Regions from separate parts of the Homo sapiens genome. Here region 2 is linked to region 1. The links come from fine-mapping of genetic effects on gene expression. Tissue or cell type: cerebellum. Region 1 holds a variant in brackets; the other region holds the start of a gene. All regions are shown on one strand. Distances are from middle to middle.

Region 1 (8,265 bases):
AAATTAGCGGACTGACACTGACTGACTTCAAGACTTACTATAAAGCTATGATAATCAAGATGGTATGGTATCCACCAAAGAATAGACAAAGAAACTAATGGAACAGAATAAAGGGCCCAGAAACAGTCCCTTTTAAACACAGTTAACTAATCTTTGACAAAGGAGCAAAGGCAAAACAATGGAACGAAGACAATTTTTTTCAACAAATGGGCGCTGGAACAACTGGACATCTACATACAAAAAAAATCTATACACAGCTGATGCCTTTCACAAAAAGTAACTCGAAATGTTTCATAGACCTAAATGTAAAATGCAAGATGAAAATTCCTAGAGGACAGCATAGGAAAAAACCTAGATGACCTTGAGTATGGCAATGACATTTTATATACAACATCAAAGGCATGATTGATGAAAGAAATAATTAATAAGGTAGACTTCATTAAAATTAAAAGTTTATCTGTGAAAGACGATGTCAAGTGGCTGAGAAGACAAGCCACAGACTGGGAGAAAAATATTTATAAAAGACACATCTTACAAAGGACTGTTATCCAAATACACAAAGAACTCATAAAACTCAACGAGCAGGGTTGCAGTGGTTTGTGGTTTGTGCTTGAATCTCAGCTACTCAAGATGCTGACACAGGAAGATCTCTTGAGGCCAGGAGCTCAAGATCAGCACGAACAACACACTTTTTTAGAGTCAAAAAGTGTTGCTTTTTGTCTCTAAAAAGGTCAGAGAACAGTATAAATCCACATTGATATAACATCACAAATCTAAGGCATCACCCTGGGTGGTCATGGGTCATGGTTAACCTTGCTGGGGGTGCCCCCCCATTTCACAAGTCAGTAGAGGCAAAGATAAACAAAGTTTCTAATAGCACAATTTTGGCTTGAGTTTCTCTATGTAGCCACACCTCACTGATTCTCCAAATCCAATTTTATTGAGAAATCTTGCTATGAATGCTTCCTTTCTAACTGACACCAGTACTATATTTCATTCTATGTTGTCTGTGCAATTTCTGATTCTGAATTTGCTGAGTCTGAGCACAGTTTCCCTATAACCTTCTTTATTCCCTTTCCAAAAAGATTGAGAAAAGTGGGTGACTCGATGTGTTGGTGACACCATTGAACACATTAAAACTCTCTCACTAAGTAGACCTAAGAACAGCCCTGGAATTTTTTTTTCCAGTGCTGGGTCACTAGTTGCTGTTGAAGACGTTCTCAAAAGCAGTTATGACAACCTGGAGAAGTGCAAGCTGCGGGAAATGATGTGTTTCCACAGTGGCATATGAAAGGGAAGTCTTTCATTCAAGAGCACAGAAAATGGCACATAGGTATGAATAGGGCGCCCTGCTAAGAATGCCATTAAATAAGCTTGCTATAGACTTTCAGAAATAGAACATTATTGCTTGGCACAGCCACCATTATACATTGGAGAGAAAAAGAATACATTTTTCACTATATGGCTTCTGTGTCCCTTCTATTAAGAGGATTAGAAGACTTTCCGCCGCTTGTGTTAAGCACTTCACCAACTTCCCATTAACAGAGAAAACACACAGTTTATATTGCCTTTCAGGACCCTAAGCATTTCTTCACACTTCTACAATTCAAAATTTCATGAAGACCATAATTTTTAAAAATATTTTCTGCGAATGGGTAGAAATTATTGACAGTGAGTCTCACTCAGCATCTCGGGGCAAACTGCTCTGTGTTCTGTTTTGCCCTAGTTTGTGGAATAAGCCCTCATAAAATTCACATGCCTAGGACCTGTGGTTGCCTGTGGAATTATTTCATCCAACAATGAAATATTTGGATGGCTGATGTGGGCTACCAGCTGGCTAAACATTGGTGAGACTGGGTGTATTGAAATGCTCTCAGTAGTAGAAGTTGGCAGACAGTTCATGGAGATACCAACCGCTATGGCAGGACTGTGTCCAGCCAATAACGGGGAATATTATAAGAGTGAAGGCAAAACCTCAAGCCTACAATATTTATAAAGTGTTTTGCAATTGCAAATAGATTTTCTAGAGTCATTTTTCTCACACTTAAAAGTTTGCTTGTATATCTAACATCATCCATATCCTGATATAAAAGTAAATATTCCTTTAAGGAAACAATGGTGGCTTGTTCAGGGCCCCAGACCAAATTTCTGGAGAGACCATCTCACTGTTATTGTTTAAGTCATGTTGACCTGCGGCTCAGAAAATGCATTCTCAGCAGCTGTCTTTATTCTTCTTACATGTTAGCTGTCTCCCATGACAAGCCTTTAGGGTTACCAAAAAAAAGATGTATGTTGAAAACTCTTATTGTTTGTTTTTCCTGCAGTTCCCTATAAAATGTCAGTATTTTTGAAGAGGTTCTCCTTAAATTGAACCCCTGAGGCTGGAGATTTACCAGGTTGATTTAGGAGTTTGAAATCCTGGAGTGTTTCCATAAAATGAGGATTTACAGTTCATAAATATAATGACAAAAGTGTGAAGATACATTTTTGTCCTTGAAAAACTACTGGAACAAAAGTACTTTTCATAAAAGGCCCACAAGCTGCTATTTCCTTCAGACAGAGGCCTATCCTGGCTAGGAAGAGTGAAGTGGCGTTTTATTGCCACTTGTTTAAGATGGTCTCCCTCTCTGCTTCTTGGGGAGCCACTTTCTCCTGACAGGTACACAGGTGGACATCGGAATTGAGCACTGCGACATTTAAGCAGCGACAAGTATAAAGAAATAACAGGAAAACATGTTAATAGGTAGAGCACATTTCTTTTATTTGCCCTGTTCCTGCCTGGGTTCAGCTTCTGGATCACTATAGTCTGGTTGTGATCTTTGCTCTCAGATCGTTAGCTGAGTTCCTTCTTGCATATGGCACCAAACAACCTGGTTAATAATTGACATTAAATTATCTGCTGTGACAAACTGTTTAGGGAAAATATATGCCATGCTTTGGCTTTATAAAATGTTAAGGGGGGAACACTAAGGAAACTGTGTCACTAATGGACCTTGTTTTTTTGTTTTTTTTTTTTTTTGAGATGGAATCTCTCTCTGTTGCCCAGGCTGGAGTGCAGTGACACAATCTCAGCTCACTGCAACCTCCACCTCCCAGGTTCAAGTGATTTTCCTGCCTCAGCCTCCTGAGTAGGTGGGATTACAGGCGCACACCACCATGCCCGGCTAATTTTTGTATTTTTAGTAGAGATGAGGTGTCACCATGTTGGTCAGGCTGGTCTCGAACTCCTGACTTCATGATCCGCCCGCCTCAGCCTCCCAAAGTGCTGGGGTTAGAGGTGTGAGCCACCATGCCTGGCAAATGGACCTTCTTGATAGATGATAGAAATGGTGTGAGGCTAGCAGTTATGTAGCTCTGCAGAAAATGGCCTAGGTTGAATAGCAGCAGTGGATTCATGAGTTTGGGGAAAACCTCTGGATTTTCTTTCAATTTAGTTGTGAATTGAATTGACATAATTTTCAAACTTAGGATGAATGTTGGAGCTTACCCTGAGGTTAAAGAAGGGACAGCCTTCCAGATTTGCTTACTTTATCCCAATTCTTGGAAAGGCAGAATCATGTCTCCATTCTACTCTGACTAATTCACTTCTATAAATGTCTAGTAACCTAGAAGGAGGGAGGAAGTGTTGTGCCCACCGCACACCTACTTCCCTTAATGCTGATGTTTGGTTATAATTAGAAATAACTTTATATTGTGGAAAGAGCACTATGCCATGAGTCAGACAAACTAAGTTCTAGTCATGGATTCACAACTGATAATAGTTTCCTGAGCAAAGCAAGATACATTGAGATTGAAAGGGAGTATTATTAACACTTATACTGGTCCACAGGCATTAACCAGGACTGTTGTGAGGAAACTGGGATGTATGGCCATTCTTCTACTTCCTGTGTGTTTGGGCAAGATAATATTCTAAGGGAATATTGAAGGAACCGAAGTAGAATGGGCTCCTTTTGGTAGTCTTTTCCTGTAAACCAGCATAATTTTTAAGAAGTAAGACCTAATGTAAGGAGAGGGCTGTGTTTGAAGAGACATTAGGGAATACTGTAGATCCCGATGGTGCAGTTAAGCAAGCCTATAGCTGTGTATATTTGGCATCTGACCAGAAATATACAGTTCTGACATTTTGGGGAATTAACTTTGCTGTTAAGTCATTGCAGCCCTGGAGACTAAAACTCAAGGACTCTTGGTCCTCCTCATGTC[A/C]TAATTTGACGTTCCTTGGCCTAAATCTGGCGATCAGCCTCGGGCCCTCTGCCTCATTGTTTTTTGCAGAATTAGAAGGAATCAAGATACTTTCTGTAGAGCTCCTGCTACCACACTGACAACTGTGTTCATGGCCCATGTAGCCCAAACCTCTTCAGCCATCTGCTCAGCCTACTGGCCACAGTTCTGAATTAAGCAACTGGAGGCCAGTCATTAACAAACACCTTCTGTTGGCTTATACACCATGACCAAGAAACTTCAATTGGCAGTTTGAGGTCATACAAGACACTTAACTTGAATATGTTTTATGCAGGAAAATCAACTCATAGGTACTGCCATGTAAGCATTATACATATTGATTAAATAATATTAATGCAAGGTCCATGGGCAGGTTATATACAAAATGACTCTGTTGCCACATAAGGAGGTTGTGGCTGTATGAGCATCCCTTTAAATCATGCAACAATATTTTGGAATATCTTTCAAGTAGGTAACAGGGCTAATTAGGTCATCAACAAAGATTTGTGTTCCCCTTCCATAGAGTAAAGCTGGGTGCTAGGAGGCTGCTGTCCACCTAGGATCTAGATTTCCCTGAATATCAGGCATAGGTGGAGCCTAGTGTCTAGTTTCTTCACAGTGAAACATGAAGAGATATCTTTCTGTAGTCTTGTCTCCATATACCAGTGGAATGTGACTGTCTCCAAGACCCTGGAAGAAGAACCCTGGGTCCCTACATAATCATGTGAAAGGCTACTAGCCAAGGAAATTAATGTGTGAGAAATATAACTCTATTGTGTTAAGATTTGAGGGGTGATATGGTTTGGCTGTGTCCCCACCCAAATCTCATCTTGAATTGTAACTCCAACAATTCCCACATGTCATGGGAGGGACCCAGTGGGAGGTAATTTAATCATGGGGGCATGTCTTTATTATGCTACTTGTGATAGTGGGTAAGTCTCATAAGATCCGATGGTTTTATAAATAGGAGTTCCCCTGCACAAGCCCTCTCTCTTTGCCTGACACCATCCATATAAGGGACTTGCTCCTCCTTGCCTTCTGCCATGATTGTGAGGCCTCCCCAGCCACATGGAACTGTAAGTCCATTAAACGTCTTTATCTTCCCAGTCTCGGGTATGTCTTTATCAGCAACATGAAAATGGACTATACAGTAAATTGGTACCAGTAGAGTGGGGTGCTGCTAAAAAGATACCCAAAAATGTGGAAGCGACTTTGGAACTGGGTAACAGACAGAGGTTGGAACAATTTGTAGGGCTCAGAAGATGACAGGAAAATGTGGGAAAATTTGGAACTCTCTAGAGACTTATTGAATGGCTTTGACCAAAATGCTGATAAAGATATGGACAATGAAATCCAGGCTCAGATGGTCTCAGATGGATATGAGGAACTTGTTGGGAACTGGAGCAAAGGTGACTCTTGTTATGTCTTATCAAAGAGACTGGCAGCATTTTGCCCCTGCCCTAGAGATTTGTGGAACTTTGAACTTGAGAGAGATGATTTAGGTTATCTGGCAGAAAAAAAATTCTAAGCAGCAAAGCATTCAAGACATGACTTCGGTGCTGTTAAAGGCATTCAGTTTCATAAGGGAAGGACAGCATAAAAGTTTGGAAAATTTGCAGGCTGACAATGTGATAAAAAAGAAAATCCCATCTTCTTAGGAGAAATTCAAAGTGGCTGCAGATATTTGCAGAAGTAATGAGGAGCCCAGTGTTAATCCCCAAGACAATGGGGAAAATGTCTCCAGGGCATGTCAGAGGGTTCTTCATGCAGCCCTTCCCATCACAGCCCTGGAGGCCTAAGAGCATAAAATGGTTTTGTGGTCTGGGCCTAGAATCCCTGTGCTGTGTGCAGCCTAGGGACTTGGTTCTCTGTGTCCCAGCTGCTCCAGCCATGGCCAAAATGGGTCAATGTAGAGCTCAGGCTGTAGCTTCAGAGGGTGTAAGCCCCAAGCCTTGGTAGCTTCCACATGGTGTTGAGCCTGCGAGTGCACAGAAGTCAAGAATTGGGGTTTGGGAACCTCCATCAAGATTTCAGAGGATGTATTGAAATGCCTGGATGCCCAAGCAGAAGTTTGCTGCAGGGGTGGGGCCATCATGGAGAACCTTGGCTAGGGCAGTGCAGAAGGGAAATGTGGGGCTGGAGCCCACACACAGAGTCACAACTGGAGCACTGCCTAGTGGAGCTGTGAGGAGAGGGCTACCATCCTTCAGACCCCACAATGGTAGTTCCACCAACAGGTTGCACTGTGCACCTGGAAAAGCCACAGACACTCAACCCCAGCCTGTGAAAGCAGCCAGGAATGAGGTTGTACCCTGCAAAGCCACAGGAGTGGAGCTGCCCAAGACCATGCGAAACCACCTCTTGCAATATGTGACTCAGATGTGAAACGTGGAGTCAAAGGAAATCATTTTGGAACTTTAAGATTTGACTGCCCCATTGGGTTTCAGATGTGCATGCGGCCTGTAGCCTCTTTGTTTTGGCCAATTTCTCCCATTTGGAATGGCTGTATTTACCTAATGCTTGTACCCCCATTGTATCTAGGAGGTAACTAACTTGCTTTTGATTTTACAGGCTTATAGGCAGAAGGGACTTGCCTTTTTTCAGATAAGACTTTGGACTGTGGACTTTTGAGTTAATGCTGAAATTAGTTAAGATTTTGGGGAACTGTTAGGAAGGCATGATTGGTTTTGAAATGTGAGGACATGAGATTTCGGAGGGGCCAGGGGCAGAATGATATGGTTTGGCTGCATCCCCACCCAAATCTCATCTTGAATTGTAGCTCCCATAATTTCCAAGTGTTATGGGAGGGACCCAATGGGAGATAATTGAATCATGGGGGCACTTTCTCCTATACTATTCTCATAGTAGTGAATAAGTCTTATGAGATCTGATGGTGTTATAAGGGGAAACTCTTTTCACTTGATTCTCATTCACTCTCTTGCCACCGCCACGTAAGAAGTGCCTTTTGCCTTCCACAATGATTGTGAGGCCTTCCTAGCCACATTGAACTGTAAGTCCATTGAACCTCTTTCTTTTGTAAATTGCCCAGTCTCAGATATGTCTTTATCAGCAGCATGAAAAGGGACTAATACAAGGAGTTATCTGTTAGAGAAGCTAATGTGTTATTAATTAATACAGCTAAGCATGGTTGATTTATTTATAATTTACTTTGTTTCACAAAATATTTGAGATAACCTACAAGATTACATACATTTAAATGAAAATAAATATAAGAAAATAAAAATTAGAATATAAGGCTAAGATCAATGGACATTTGGAGCAGAAATTTTCAGGATATGCAGAAATATAAAGTTGAGCCACAAATTTGGTTCCTGACTTCCTGGAAACCAAAGCGATAATAAGAAATTCTGTTTCATGTATATAATTCATATTGCCCATAAGGAGAAAGCATACTAATTTCTGAAGCACAGAAAAAAATTTCTGGCACTTCAGTTTGAAAGAAATTTATCTTACAGGGTGTCATATAAGAAATACTGAGGAATATGATAAACAGTGTCCTCTATCATATTTCTTAGTAAATACAGATAGTGACGTTTGTAAAGACATTTCTTGTAAGCTATTGGCATCCACCACGGGTCACTTGTCAATGTGATTATGGTGGTGGTGGCTAGACACAGAGATAAATAAGATCTATATCCTGAACCAGAGAAACTCAGTTTCTAGTGGGAAAGAAGGATATGTTATGCAGAAAATGATAATACAGAGTGATAAGTACTGGGAGAGGAGAATTAATTAGCATGTTCTGGTCAATTTTATAAAGGTTTTTGTTTCTTTCCTTAATGATTCAAAAAAAAACAGCCTTATTTTTCTTGGCTGTATTTTATTTTAATAACATAAATTTCCAAGATAAGAGTAGGGGACTAGACTTGTGAGTCACTCTTAAGGTGGTAGCTCACAGTTTCTGATTCCTGTAACTGGAAAACATGAGGATGGTAGGCAGAGGCTACAGAAAAAACACAGGTTTTGGGTCACATATTCCTGGGCTTGAGATCCAGCTTTCATATTTATTGGCTGTGTAACCCTAGT
Region 2 (8,000 bases), 850 kb after region 1:
GGAATTATTGCAACAAATATTTGACCTTTGATTTGTAGGATTAAAATGTGATTTCTCATATTTTAATAGGAGCAAGCATTAGTCCTGCAATTCTTTTTGTCAATAGAATAAAAATGGAATGTATGCTTGCTGCTTCTACATGCCGGTTGATACCCATGCTGAACACTTTTCTTACAACACAGAGGTTTCCTTGTTTTCTGTCTTGCGTTCTACCTTTGCTCACCACAGAGACATTAATGATGCCATGTGTCTTTTTGCACCATCAGTGCAGCAGCTTTCATTATGCTCCTTGTCTCGGTCCCACTGTAGTCTAATTAAATAAATGGAAACGGGTAGTCACTGAAAATAAACAGCAACTGCAAAAGTTTTGCCTCTTAAGAAACCTTCTGCATTGTATTCCGCCCTGCCTCATTGATTCTAAGATCTCTACCGCTTCCTTGTGTTCAGAAACCAGACTCTTCAGTTTGTCTTGCTTCAGTCAGACAAATGCTTTATAAAAATGACCTATATTTTTCAGACTGTGGGGAGAGAAGAAAAAGACTTTGAGAAAGTGACTAAGGAGGGAGTAAGAGTGATACAATCTTTGATTCAATTTAGTTGGACTGTGTTCTTTATGCCTTCATCTTTTTCTTTATAAAAAAGATAGCGTTTTTGATGCTCTGCTCCAGGCAGCCTCCCAGGGTGAGTGCAGATGTGCTGAGCCATTTGGCTGCCTTGAGGACCGGCTCAGAGAGCCTCTCTTCTCACTAATGAAGTCATCTCCTCTCGGCAGCCCGGCCTCTCCCATCACTCCATGTTGGAACTTGGCTTTGGCTTGCATAGTTCTGTCGTGATGTAGATGGTCTTTCAGTTAAGTTCTAGAGAAATCTGCTCAACCATGAACAGGACATTTACAGCACAGGAGAAAAAAAAATTTATTAAAACAAATATTTTACTGTAACATTTTGATTTGGGGGTTGGAGAGCAAAAACTCAATATCTGATGTCTGGGAAAAATCTAATGTTTTATGGCTTTCTAAGGAAATTTGTCTGTGTTTAATTTATCAGAGCAATTTATATACTTCGGGTTAAAGCACAATGAGATTGCCACCATCACTTTGCCTTTTGCAAGATTTCTTTTTTAAGAATAAAAAGAAGGCAATAAAGACCTTGTATTTCTGCCTTTCCTAGAAAGCCAAAGAGAATTCAAAGTGCTGGATGAAATGTCTGTCCCTAATTTGCAGTGTTTTATTTAAAAAAAAAATTATGACACAATCTTAGAGGATAGGCTTCCTTTTTCCAGGGTCTTTGAAAGTTAAAAGTACATTTTTAATCTGTAGCATTACTGTATCATCCAGTGAGGATAATTTGCTTAGTTGTGCCTAGGACCAGTCAGATCAAGGAGTTGAAACTAAGCTCTTTCTGAATTTGAATGGGACTGGAATCTTGTCATCCCTAGAGCAGCAATAGATGATGCCATGTCTAAGAACACTTCACCTGATCAATAAAAAAGGAGAAGTCTGAAATGTAATCCTAAAGAACCTCAGAAGGAGGTTTAGATGAAGATAATAAAATTCCCTGGAGACACATCTGCCATCTACACCTTTCCTCTCCAAGTCATTGGCTTGCTGCCCCTGAGCTCAGCCAAATTCCCAAAGACAAGATCAAAGCAAGGAAGCAAGGCACATAGCTTCTGGCTTATGGTTTCTTTTAGACACAAGCATTGTGAATGAAGATCTTGCTTTATTTATACCTGGGATCTTGGAGTTTTCACAAAGAATATCCCCAGTACAAGGATGTGATTTAAAGGGGGACTCACAGAATAATATTTTAATTACTGTTTGATTCATACTTGAGTGTAATGGACAAATAAATACAATTTTAGTTATAAAACCTGAAAAATATATATTTTCCCATTCAAAAACTTCTGATAGTTTTGTCAGGCATTGGAGAATCAGAAATAAATGCTCTCTCATTTTCTTTCTCTTGATGAAGGAAAGTCATTAAAAACAGTTACATAGAAATAATAATACAACTGTAGACTCTATTCTAAATATAGCTGGTATGTTTTCCTTTTTCTTTTTTATCCATTCTCCATTTTAGACAGCTAGAGGGGAAAGTCTGCCCTAGAGATAGAAAGAAGATATCCATGGGGTATAATTTCATTTTAGTTATCTGATAGCCTGAAGAAGTATTTAATTTTCTGAATAATAATGTTACAAGTCAAAGAAGAGAAAAGACAGGCAGTTTAAAGCTTTTCAACATTGTGCATATTCTAATTCCTTAAGTCAGCCCTGAGAAAGTGCCTTTGTCCTGTAGAAGTATTTGGTCAAGTGTTGTGAAGTCTATTGGCATTAAAAGAAACTAAAAATTTTGGAGGATTAGAGAATCAAATTTGGCAACATAAATGAAAACATCTCAGAATGTAAAAAGTATCTAACCCATCACTTTCAATCATGTTCCATTATATACAGATGGCATTATTTATAGTGAATGTTAACTATTAACATTTCCCTAAAAATGGGCATTAATCTGCTATTAGTTGCTTGTTTCTGATCTAGTTCTCCTTTGTTGAAAGGTTTTACTTAACTGTATCATAAAGGGACAAAAGGGTAAAAGATAATAAGCTTTTCAGACTGGCAGATCTGTCACTTACAAAATGGCCTTGGGCAGGTTACTTGAACTCTTTGAAACTCAACTAGATTTACTCAAATTTAAGAATGAGAATACAAATCCACATCTTGAAGTGTTTCACAGAAAGGTCTATCTTAATGTCTGGAGTATATATTTCAATGAACATTCATTTTATTTTATTTCTCTCCATTCCTGAATCAAGCAATCTTGAATCTAAAGTTGCTATGATTAGCACTGAAAAGACCACTGGACTATTAATTGTGTGACTTTGGGACAGTAACTTTCTGCACCTTAGTTTGTTTACATGTTATACATGAAGGTTGAAGTCTGATTCTGCTCTGTGACTATCATTCTAAACATCTGATGAAATCAAATTTCAGTGTTTGGAATGGTAGTACAATAAATTTACTAAGAATAAATAATTCACTGCAAAAACACATTGATTTCCAAATGATGTAACTGACAGTTATATTACTGCAGAGGGCTGATAAATAACAAAAGAAATGAAAGATGCACATGGTGAGAACTGAAATTATCCTGACAAGTCTTCTACCTGTTTATCACTTAAAATCAATGACCATGCTGAATGCCTACAAATTACAAAATATAAAAGAAATCTTATAAATGCGCATGTACAGGAGTCTAAGTTACTAAAAGTTTTAAAGCATAAGTTTAAACCAAACTAATCAAAGAAGTTGAGAGGAAAAATTGGCTTTCATCTTTAATCACTACTGTTTTGAGGTCCTATGTTTAATATAATTTTCTAAGTAGAGGCTTCAGAGAGAAGAGTTGTGAGGATACTTTCATATTTGTGTAGAAGGAAAAGTTTGCCATCCATTCTAGTATCCCTAGTGTTATACTGATGTGCACCTTGGATTTATTTTGTTCCTATTGTATAAACTCATACTTGACTTCAAAGAAAAGGAAAATCCAAAGTCCCTCTTTTCTAAGGGGACAGAAATCCTTTGTGTCAACTGTTTGACCCTTTTCTCTGTAAGGTCCTATTGGAAATCTTTTGTAACACAATGCAGGGGACTCTTCCATGTGTTGATGCTGTTTACACAGTGGGGTGGGCCTGACTGAAGAAAAAAAATCGCATATACGCATGAAAGATTATGGTCTTATTTCCGGAAAGCATGAAAGGTGATTGATACTTCCAAGAAGTCCCTGTTACTCAGGAAAATTATCAAATATTCTACTCAGAGATACTTGGAAAGACTGAAGGAAAGGAAGAACGAAGAAAGCAGAATCTAGACTTATGTGGGGAGAGATTTGTGGCAGAGGAAAAGTATTCTCTTTGAATCCGACAAGGGATTTGCCTGGGGGAATTTCCTGTCCAGCCTTTTATTACCAGGGTCTTTTGAAGCCGGGCTCCCCATTGGGCAGTTCCCTGGGAGTGCAGTGGGGAATTCTTACACTTTCCCTCTAGGTCCCCGAAGGATCTCGTTTTCTCAGTGTCTCTTTCAGGTTGGCAGGAGCCTTGAGCCTGACACTTCCCTTTGATGGGACAGGCAAGCTCTGTGGGCGCGTAAACACGCTGTAACCAAGTTCTTTGCTGATTTTACAGTTTTGTGTGCTCCCGAGAAGAAGTGATCGTACTCAATTGTCTATTGCTGGCCTGCCCCCTAAGAGCCTGGGGGCTCCTTTCCCCTAACCCAGAACTAGCTGCACGGGGGGCGGGGAAATGGGGGTGGGGAAGGAGTGGGAGGGCAGTGGTTTCCGCGAGCAGAGCGATGTTACTGAGTGAGTCCCTGAATGGGGAGCGCTGCTGTCCCCAAGCCGATTGGTACTTCTTGTCAGGAAGAAACGCCAAGAGGTGGGAGTGCCTGGGGAGGGAGGCAGGCGGTCCCTACCGCAGGCGCGGGGAGCTGCCTTTCCGCCCCTCCGCCTGCTTTCCAAGCCTGGACTCTTAGGAGTGGCTGAAGCTGCGGAGCGCTTTTGGAGCCTGTGAATGAACCCTCCTCCTCTCCCTCCTCCTTCTTCTCGCTGAGTCTCCTCCTCGGCTCTGACGGTACAGTGATATAATGATGATGGGTGTCACAACCCGCATTTGAACTTGCAGGCGAGCTGCCCCGAGCCTTTCTGGGGAAGAACTCCAGGCGTGCGGACGCAACAGCCGAGAACATTAGGTGTTGTGGACAGGAGCTGGGACCAAGATCTTCGGCCAGCCCCGCATCCTCCCGCATCTTCCAGCACCGTCCCGCACCCTCCGCATCCTTCCCCGGGCCACCACGCTTCCTATGTGACCCGCCTGGGCAACGCCGAACCCAGTCGCGCAGCGCTGCAGTGAATTTTCCCCCCAAACTGCAATAAGCCGCCTTCCAAGGTAATCACGTTTCTTTTGTTCCCCCCTTAAAAAACAAAAACAAAAAACTTATAGAAAAAAACCCGCGAGCTTAGAAAAAAGAAGCAATTGGTAGAAGGCTTTAATTAAGGCAAAGAGCTGTAAGGCGAAGTTAAGAAAATGTAGGCACTTAAAAAATGCAGGTAACTTTCATAAGGGCTTTTGGGGAGAGGCATACAGAGGGACCTTGGTGTTGAAAAAGATTCAGACAAAAGAAACCCAGGGTGGGGTGGGGGGTAAAATGACTAACGGAATTGGGGGAAGGGAGGGAATAAATTGTAAAGAAATCATAGAAAAGTGGTGGGTTCTTGAGCTGGAGAGAAGAGAGGGACCTTTGGCACTTTGATTTTTTTGTTGTTGTTGTTCTTAACACGCTCGAGGCAAAAGTTTGAATGGGGACTACCAAGACTTGCCACAGACAAGTCCCCGAAGCCGCCTTGGTGCAGGCCACCTGGTTTCCCAGCCCCTGGTGTGTGGTCAGTGCCTGGTGTTCCTGGAAAGCCACTCCCGGGCAGCTCCTGACAGTGCGACCCGGCGCCCAAGCAGCCTGGGACCTTGCGCGGACCTGACCCCTTCAGACCGCAGGCAGTCTGGGAGGAGGTCCGGCCGGGGGAGGTGCAGGATCCCCGCCGTGTCTCTTTGACGACTTGGGGACTGTCACGGTTCTCTCCCGGCGCCCCTGGGTTCTTTTGTCCTGCACGCGGTGCGAAGGGGCCAGCAGGGAAGGAGCAGAGGATGGGGGGTGGGGTTGTTGGAGCCCCGCGGAGGTCTGGGAGGCCCCTGGGCGGGAAAAGCCTGTTCTGAATCGGCAGGGATGTGCAACAATTTTTCTCACCCTGAAGAGTGAAATAGGGTCTGTCGCTCCCATCTCAACAAGCAAACCGGCACCCAGAGCGCACTGCAGACAAAGGTGGCTCGGGGACCCGAATCAGGGGCCTCTGGGTCAGTCCTCTCGCCCAGACTACAGGAGTCCTCCGTTTCCTTACATATTCCCCACCCTCTCCTAGTTCTCCGCTCTAGTTGAGCAACTTTACTGGCAGGTCTAGCGGCAGCGGCGCGCGCGTGTGCCGGGAGCCCCGGGGGACGTCCTCGGCTGGAGCGCCCCACCGTCCTGCAGAGGCGTGGGCGCTGTAGGGCGACATCCCTGGTGCGTGCAGACCTAGGGCATCCGGGTTGTTCTGGCCCGCGGTCTGTGTCACTGGGCGTGGAGCGGTCTGGGTGTTAGGCAGAGGAGAGCGGGGTAGAAAAATAGTGTCATAGCCTAAACTATTTGCTCTCCAATCCAACTGCGTCTCGGCAAGTCCTGCATGTCCCTGGGAGATGCTGCGGGAAGGGGGAGAAATCTACACGGCGCCTGGAGAGTTGTCCTGCCGCGCGCACACCCGCGGCAGAGTCTCTCTGGGTCGCGTTCCTCATCTTTGTGTCTCCCTCTGTCTCCATCTTCTCTGCCTCCCTTCCCCTCTCCCAGCCTCTGTTCTCTCTCTCTAGCTTCTGCGTCCCCTCCCCCACAGCTGACAAATGAATGGCTAGTGTGAAATCCCTGCCTTTCCCGTGCTCCAAGGCAGCAGGGAGGGAGGAGCGAGGGAGGCGGTGCGCTCCTTCGGATCTGCCCCCAGTTCAGCTCACAAGACTTGCAGAACCTAGATGTCTAGGAATTGGGAGTTTTGCGGCGGGTGTGGGCGCCCCCTGATGGAGAAGTCCCGCACAGGCGGAGAAAAACAAGCCCCCCAGACCAAGCGAGCATCTTTCACAACCTTGTGTTCAAGGATGGAAGGCCCTAGTTTTCCCTTAAGTCATTCATTTTGCACTCCACAATCTGCGGCGTACATCTAGGAGTTTGGAGGACCCTGAAAAAAGGTCTTGGTCTGTGCAAAGTGCAGAGATGCCTTCTCGCGAGTCGGCTGGAACGCACGCGGCGCCCTGGGTCCAGTTCGCCGCTTAGTGGACGAACGCACATGGCCAGGGTGGAGCCAGGTTTCGGAGGTCTAGACGCGCCACCCTGGGCGTCTTTAAGAAAGATAATACACATACCGTGCTCTCAAAACCCATGACCACTTGAACCCAACGCTAGGGCCCCGCCCCAGGATATTGCAAAAGAAGGGCTCCTAATCCAAAACTTAAACTTCCTCAACTTCAGGGCGGGCGTCGGACGGGAAAGTGGAGAGAAGGCGGGCAGTGGGAGGAAAAAAGAAAGGGAAGGAAGGGAAGTGGAAGGAAAGAGGACCGTGGAGGGGAGGAAAAGGAGAAAGGAACGGAGATGGGGCAGATGGCATTCAAACAGCCAGGAACGGACCGGAAGGGTTCGTTTCGGGGTTTGGGTCTGAATTTCGAGACTCGTTTTAGGATACTCTTTTCCCTTTCCCAGCGGCAACAAATGTGACTGCAGAGGCGTGCCGGGATGGAAGGGTGGGAAAGAACTAGACAAGCGGAGGTGGTCCAGCCCCGCCCAAAGGGGCTGGGTCTGGGGCCCGCCCCCACTCGCTCACCTCGCGCCAAGGGAGGACCCGCAACGGGCGCTCCCCGCAGCGGCTGGGTTAGCCAGCCGCCACGTGGGTTGGCGCTTCGGCTCCCAGCCGAGACGGGTGTGACTTCCTGGGCTCAGAGACTGCAGTACAGCCGCACAGGCGGCCGGCGCAGCCGAGGCCCCCACCCACCGAGGCCAATGGGGGCGGGGCGGGGAAGGCAGGGCCCAGCTTAACCGAGAGAGCCGAGTGGCCTCGCCCCCAGGATTCGGGGCCGGCTGCTTCTGGAGCTGACCCGAGTTCCATCCAGACAGCGCTGAACACTCTTATTAAAAGGCTATTTAAGTTTTATTTTATTTTATTTTATTTTTGCTTGCTTCTTGGGAGTGGTAGGAGGGGCATCGTGCTTTTGTTTTGAGGCAGGGGAGAGGTTAAAATTTACTCCAAGCAAACTTTTTGTCAGAAAAATGAGACTTTATACCGTATTCCATTTGTTGACTTTTTAAATACATTCAGGTCACTCTAAAGCCCATTCTTAGTCAATTAACAGATTAATTTCGTTCCAGACTGTCATAAAGAGTT

Direction of the effects. Positions count from the first base shown, and alleles are read on the strand shown. Sizes are in standard deviations (SD) of each study's normalised expression.
In carriers of allele C in region 1, the expression in cerebellum of the gene that starts at base 4,659 in region 2 tends to be higher than with A alone (moderate effect, 0.49 SD a copy in GTEx).

Evidence for each region. PIP is the estimated chance that this variant, and not a neighbour inherited with it, causes the effect.
Region 2: it holds the start of VCAN, and the variant in region 1 is fine-mapped to the expression of VCAN in cerebellum (GTEx, PIP above 0.99).

What each region holds. Positions count from the first base shown.
Region 1 is chr5:82,620,568-82,628,832 of GRCh38, forward strand. No RefSeq gene overlaps it. Among named protein-coding and RNA genes, the nearest start is that of MIR3977, 220 kb to the right of the region's middle. The variant A/C (reference allele first, on the strand shown) is at 4,201.
Region 2 is chr5:83,467,086-83,475,085 of GRCh38, forward strand. It overlaps VCAN (versican), which reads left to right and starts at 4,659. Exons shown (of 15, transcript NM_004385.5): 1 at 4,659-4,938. RefSeq lists an enhancer at 5,088-5,960 and silencers at 7,393-7,482, 7,513-7,732.